2 linked regions of the Homo sapiens genome follow. The protein of the gene in region 1 purifies or fractionates together with the protein of each later gene. This does not show direct contact. Each region holds a gene or a part of one and is shown on either strand. Other genes may lie near its edges.

Region 1 (3,500 bases):
GGACGGGCCCTGAAGAGGGGCGGGGCTGCGGTGGGGTGGGCGGAGATGCAGAGGCGTGGCCTTGGGGAAGGGCAAGGCTTCTCCAGGGGCTGCTTATGGATGGGGATGCAGGGGCAGTACCTTGGGATGAGGCGGTGTCTGGTGGGAGGCGGGGGGGCTTCTCCAGGTGCTGCCTGTGAGTAGGGATGCAGGGGCGTGGCTTGTGATGGGGCGGGGTCTGGGGAGGGGCGGGGCTTCTCCACGGACAGAGTTACCTGTGCCCTGTGGTCTCAGATTCCTCCACCTGACTATTCGTAAAACTGTTTCCTCCTGGTTCTGTCTATGTGATTTGTCCATATGACTGACTGGTGGTCTCTGGTTGTGTCTGTCTGTCTATCTTCCTGCCTGAGAGTCCAAATGACGGTGTCTGGCGGTCTCTGTCCACAGAGCTCATCATGTGGGACCGACTCCACTCTGGTCTTTCTTACCTTACTAGAACTGAATGTGTCTGACGGTTTCAGACCATTACCTGGTTCTTCCTTTTTAAAATTGAGGGCTGGGCGTGGTGGCTCACGCCTGTAATCCCAGCACTTTGGGAGGCTGAGGCAGGTGGATCACGAGATCAGGAGTTCAAGACCAGCCTGGCCAAGATGGTGAAACCCGTCTCTACAAAAAATACAAAAATTAGCTGGGCGTGGTGGCAGGCGCCTGTAATCCCAACTACTCGGGAGGTTGAGGAAGAGCATTGCTTGAACCCGGGAGGCAGATGTTGCAGTGAGCCGAGATCACGCCACTGCACTCTAGCCTGGGTGACGGAGCAAGACTCTGACTCAAAAAAAGAAAAAAATTGAGATGTCTTCCACATCCTACCAAATTCACCCTTTAAAAATGTACAATGAAGTGCTTTTTTTTTCTATTCATAAAACCGTGCAACCATCACCACTATGTAATTCCAGAACATTCCACCCCCTCCCTCCACAATATGGCTGGCCCTTCCATAGTACTCTACCAGTCTGGAGCCAGGTGCAGTGGCCTCTGTATGTTCTATGGACTTTGTCGGTGGGACTGTGTTTCCATTCACCTGTGTCTGGTGGTCTCTGTGTGTGTGGCTGTCTGTCTGCATTAGCCTGGCTGGCTGTGTGGGTGACCAGGTCTTTGTCTAACTGTGGCTGTCTGTCTGTGTGATTCTCCTCCATTCTGACCCTTGATCTGGCTGATTGTCCAGCTGTCCGTCTGAGCAAACGGCTGGCTGTCTTTCTGTTATCAGTTCTCTCTGGCTGCATGTGTCTGACACTGGCCATGTAGGTCTCTGTGTCCCCTCTCCTGTGGCCCCCGCTCAGCCAGTCCTGTGACCCCATCACCCTCTACCTCTTCTTCTTCTCTTGGAGCAGGCTGTGCTTTCGTGAAGTTCTCCTCCCACACGGAGGCGCAGGCGGCCATCCACGCCTTGCATGGGAGCCAGACCATGCCGGTGAGTTGGAGCTGCCCTTGGCCGTGGGGGTGGGGGTGGGAAAGGGGTGAGGGGGACAGGGATGAAACAGGCCATATTCCTACCGTCGCTGTCATCCGGTAGCCCCTGGCTGTCCTTCAGAGGGGGCACAGGTGGAGAAAGAGGCGCAGTCCCTGGCTGTGGTCCCTGGAGTGGGTATACACGTGTGAGTGTGTGCAGATGTGGAGGTGAGTAGGCAAGCGAAGTGTATGTGTGTGCATGGATGTATTACAAGTGTGTGCGTGTGGGTGAGTGTGCATGTCTGGGTGTGAGTGTGCCCGAGACTGCATGCATGTGTGTGTGTGAGTGCGTGTTTGAGTGTGTCATTACTAGTAGGCGAGTGTTATGTGAGTGCTGTGTGCACGAGGGGTGTGCGTAAATATGTATGGATAAGTGTGCCATTGTGTGCTAGTGTAGAGATACTAGTGCGTGTGCGTGTATGAGAGTGTACATGTGTGTTTCTATGTGTGTGAGCGTGTGTGTGAGTATGCCTGGGCCACGGGGGAGGAAGCACATGTGTGTGCATCTGCAGGTGCATTTGTGGGCAGGTTTGTGTGTGTGTGTGTGTGTGTTTGTGTGTGTGCATGACTGTGAGTGTGTCAGTATTGTGGGTGATTGTGTACACGTTTGTGAGTATATGCAGGTCTGTGTGAGTATAGGTTGTGAGTGGGTGAGTGTGTATGTGTGTACATGTAAGGGTATCCTAAGGGGATGACACCTGGGTTGGATTTGCTGAGGCCAGGAGAGGCCCTGACAAAAAGAAAGGCTGGGAGGTGGCAACAGGTAGCCCAGAGGAGCCATAGAAGATGGGGCCGCAATGCGAGGCTGAGAAGCCTGGACTTTCTCCTAGGGCAGTGGGGAGCCACAGACGGTTTAGAGCAAGGGAGGAGACAGGCCAGGTCGGTTGCAAATATCCCTTTGGGGCTAATGTAGAGGATGGGCAGGGTGCAAGACTAGAGGCTGGGAGGCCAAAGAGGAGGCTAGGCCAAGGTCCAGCTGAGGTAGGAGGAGGCCTGAGCTGGGGCCAGGTGGACAGGGAGGAGGGCTGATCAGAAAACAGACATTAGGGTGAGAATGGATGGGGGGCCTGTTGACTCACTGGTTGAGGGAGGGGTGGGGATTGGGGACAGGTCCCAGAGTCTGCAGCAGTGAGAGGCTGGGGAGGACCAAGGAGGCACTGGGGACTGCCCTTCCCCCGAGGAAGGAGTCCCCAGAAGCCATTGTTCCTGCACCCACATCTCCGAATCTGCTACAAGGAAGATGGGACCTGAGAGGAACAAGCCACCTCTCTCAGCTCTTAAAACCCAGGGGAGGGGCTTAGTTCAGCACAAGGGCAAGTGTTCCCAAGCTCAGAGATGTCCCAGGACAGGGCTGGTAGGCGTCTGGAGGAGTGAGTTCTCTATCGGAGGAGGCATGTCAGCGAAGACAGGGAGGCAACAGGGTGCATCCTGTGGGAGCCAGCTCACCAGGGAGGAGCTGGTCGAAGGGGAAGATATTTTCCTTCTTGAGCCCCAGAGTCGGGGTGTGGGCTGGTTTGTGAGGGGTGGGAATGGCCTCCTGGCCCCTGCCTCAGGCCTCTCTTTTATTTTTTTGAGACAGAGTCTCGCTCTGTCGCCCAGGTTGGAGTGCAATGGGGCAATCTCAGCTCACTGCAATCTCCACCTCTCGAGTTCAAGCGATTCTTCTGCCTCAGACTCCCAAGTAGCTGGGATTACAGGCACGCGCCACCACACCTGGCTAAATTTTGTATTTGTAGTAGAGACGGGGTTTCACCATGTTGGTCAGGCTGATCTCGAACTCCTGACCTCAGGTGATCTGCCCACCTTGGCCTCCCAAAGTGCTGGGATTACAGGCATGAGCCACTGTGCCCGGCCACCAGGCTTCTCTTGTTACCGATATCAGGACCTGTTGCAGCATCCTGACTGCACAGACAGACACTCCCTGGCTCACCGCTGCTTCGACTGCCCAGGGCTGCCTGTTGGTGGATTTCAGCCCAGCCCTGTGGCACCTGGACAGCCATGGAGTGGGATGG
Region 2 (3,500 bases), on another chromosome or scaffold:
AACATTAACTGGATTAAGCAAAGAGAGAGAATTTACTGGCTTTTTTACTGTAGAGTCCAGATAGTTTTAGCCACCTGCATAGCTGGATCAGGAATTCACATAAAATTAAGAATTGGTTTCTGTCTCTCACTCTTTGCTACTTTAGTGACTGCCCCACCCCAGACCCCCAGCACATTTCCCAGTAGTTTCAGGCTTACATAATTCCACCTTCTCTTTCCCAACAGTTCTTTTTTCTTTTTTTTTTTTTTTTGAGACAGAGTCTTGTACTGTCGCCCGGACTGGAGTGCAGTGGTGCAATCTTGGCTCACTGCAATCTCCGCTTCCCGGGTTCAAGCGATTCTCCTGCCTCAGCCTCCCAAGTAGATGGGACTACAGGCGCCTGCCACCACGCCCGGCTAATTTTTTGTATTTTTAGTAGAGAGGGGGTTTCACTGTGTTAGCCAGGATGGTCTCGATCTCCTGACCTCGTGATCTGCCCGCCTCTGCCTCCCAAAGTGCTGGGATTACAGGCGTGAGCCACCACGTCTGGCCCCCAATAATTCTTATAAAAGTCCTGGAATTGAATCTCATTGGCCTGATTTGGGTCGCACATCTATTTCTGAATCAGTCATTGCAGACTTGGGGATAGAATATGTTAATGGCTACAGTGGATCACGTGTTCACTCTTGGAGCTGCAGCAGAGGGAGCCAGCTCCATGTGGATTGAGGACAAAGGAATAATTCCATAAAAAACAGTGGCATCTTTTGTTGTTGTTGTTCTTTGAGACAGAGTCTCACGCTGTCACCCAGGCTGGAGTGCAGTGGCGCAGTCTCGGCTCACTGCAAGCTCCGTCTCCCGGGTTCACGCCATTCTCCTGCCTCAGTCTCCCGAGTAGCTGGGACCACAGGTGCCTGCCACCATGCCCAGCTAATTTTTTGTATTATTAGTATTATTTTTTAGTAGAGACGTGGTTTCACCATGTTAGCCAGGATGGTCTCCATCTCCTGACCTCATGATCCACCCGCCTCGGCCTCCCAAAGTGCTGGGATTACAGGCGTGAGCCACTGCACCCGGCCAAAACAGTGGCATCTTACAAAACTATCTCTCACATGAAGAGAAACCTTCTTGAAGCCCTTAGCAAAGAGCATGGGCACTTTGGAACTAGGGAAGGACCAATTCTTGCTCTTCCTCACACATGCTAATTATAGTCTTGCTTGCTTTCTCCTCTTCCTAGAATGCATCACCAGAATATTCACATGGATCACCTCCTCATTTCTTTCAGATTCTGTTCAAATGTCATCTTACCAGGCTCTCTTGACTTCCCTCTAAAATGGTACCACCCCCAGCCCCTAAATGTCATTTTCTAACCCTATAATTTGCTTTTTTCTCCATAGTGTGTGATATGTTGGTATATATTCTGTGTTCCTCCATGAGAAAAAAGACCTTGTCGTTTTTGTTTACTACTATATTCTAGGTTCCTAGAAAAATTCTTGACATACAGTAGGCATTCAGATATTTATCCCTCAAACAAAGCAATGCATGAATATTAGAAAAATGAAAGGAACAGAGATAAATGACTCTTAAAAGTATGGAGGAACTTTTTTTGGGGAGAAGGAGGGTGGTGTTTGATACTGAGGAGTTAGTAAAATATTCCTATGATATTGCTACTATTCTTTTCACTAGAGGCTTCATATATTATATTTTATTATTACATTTAAGAATCCTTATTAGGTACACTGTTAATTATTAGTTCCAGTGATTGATTTCATCCTGTTCATATGACTGAAAGCAACACTATTCAGTAGAAATACAATGCAAGCGGCTGGGCGTGGTGGGTCTGGCCTGTAATCCCAGCACTTTGGGAGGCTGAGGCGGGCAGATCATCAGGTCAGGAGTTCGAGACCAGCCTGACCAACATGGTAAAACCCCCTCTCTACTGAAAATACAAAAAAATTAGCTGGGCATGGTGGCATGTGCCTGTAATCCAGCTACTTAGGAGGCTGAGGCAGGAGAATCACTTGAACCTGGGAGGCAGAGGTTGCAGTGAGCCGAGATTGTACCACTGTTCTCCAGCTTGGGCGACAGAGCGAGACTCCGTCTCAAAAAAAAAAAAAAAAAAAAGAAATAAATATAATGCAAGCTATAAATTTGTGCCACATAGGTAAGTTAAAATTTTTCTAGTGGCCCCAGAAAATAATGAAAAGAAACAAGTGAAATTAATTTTAATATTACATTTAACTCAACATATCTAAAGTATCATTTCAACATACAGTCGATGTAAAACATTTTTGAGATATATCACATTTTCGTAAAACATGTTTGAAATCAGGTATATATTTTATAATTTACATTACATCTGAATTCGGACTAGCACCAAAAATCACATGTGGCCAGTGGCTACTATATAAGATACCATTGTTTAGAGCATATATGCATCCATGTATTCATGTATTTGATAAATATTTATAGACTAGTGCCAGAAACCATTCGAAAGGCTGGAATTCATAGGTGAAGAGGACAGATGGGCTCTCTGATTTCATGGAGTTTATGTTTTACAGGGAAGAGACAAAAAAATAAGTAAACAATTTCCAAAGAGTTAAGTAGAAAGGAGGTTATTTATATGATGATTGATTTAAATAATATACCCAGAGTAAAGTGAACCAATCTTAAGTATGTATAGCTAGATGAATTTTTTTTAATGTGACAACCACTCAGATCACAAGGCTCCTTCCTGTTCATTAGTAAACAGTTTGAAATTAGAGTTTTTAAAGGGGGGAAGGGATGGGAGGAGAATATAATAATATCTTTTCTACTTTTGATAGGCATGGAAAGGAGGAAATTGTTTTCTGGACTACTGGGCTAGTGGTCAGAGCACTGTTTCCTCTTGGGAAGAAGGAAATTGAGCTTGGAGCCAAATCTATCCTTTGCCTTTGATTCCTCCATTCAACTATAGTAATATATTTTTTAAAAGGCTCTGCTGCCCTCTGGTATCTAAAATGAATTTAAAAAGGTAAATTGGTTCTAGAACTATACCTAATGAAGAGGTCTACTGTTTTAGTAAGGGTTTGTCAATGACAGAGTTAACCACAATATTCCATTCTCTGAGTACACTGTAAGTTCTGCAATGGTTTGATGATATTTCTTAGCTCAATATAAATAATATTAGACTATTTGTGTCAATAGTTTTTTTATGAGTTAATTTATACGTTTCCTTTCAAATTGCAGTTTTAAAAATGGTATTAAGTTTAAAAAAAAGAACATAAATTGTAGGCCAAATATTTTATGTATGAATGCTAATTATCATTTTATCTTTGCAGATTTTGAAATACATGGCCAAATATTTTATGTATGAATGATAATTATCATTTTATCTTTGCAGATTTTGAAAGACATAGCCAATCGATTCCATATGATGAATGGCTCCAAAATACATTTTGTGCCCGGCTGGGATTGTCATGGGTTGCCCATTGAAATAAAAGTATTATCAGAACTTGGTAGAGAAGCTCAGAATCTTTCAGCTA

What was found. The genes of interacting proteins can lie anywhere in the genome.
Region 2: the proteins of CELF5 (region 1) and IARS2 purify together in Homo sapiens (affinity purification with mass spectrometry; 2 studies listed by BioGRID and IntAct, with this or other methods). This does not show direct contact.

The regions. Positions count from the first base shown.
Region 1 is NC_000019.10:3,276,661-3,280,160, forward strand, and holds part of CELF5 (CUGBP Elav-like family member 5), read left to right. Parts: intron 1-1,370; coding exon 1,371-1,450; intron 1,451-3,500. UniProt on the Homo sapiens protein: RNA-binding protein implicated in the regulation of pre-mRNA alternative splicing. Mediates exon inclusion and/or exclusion in pre-mRNA that are subject to tissue-specific and developmentally regulated alternative splicing.
Region 2 is NC_000001.11:220,097,132-220,100,631, forward strand, and holds part of IARS2 (isoleucine--tRNA ligase, mitochondrial precursor), read left to right. Parts: intron 1-3,358; coding exon 3,359-3,500.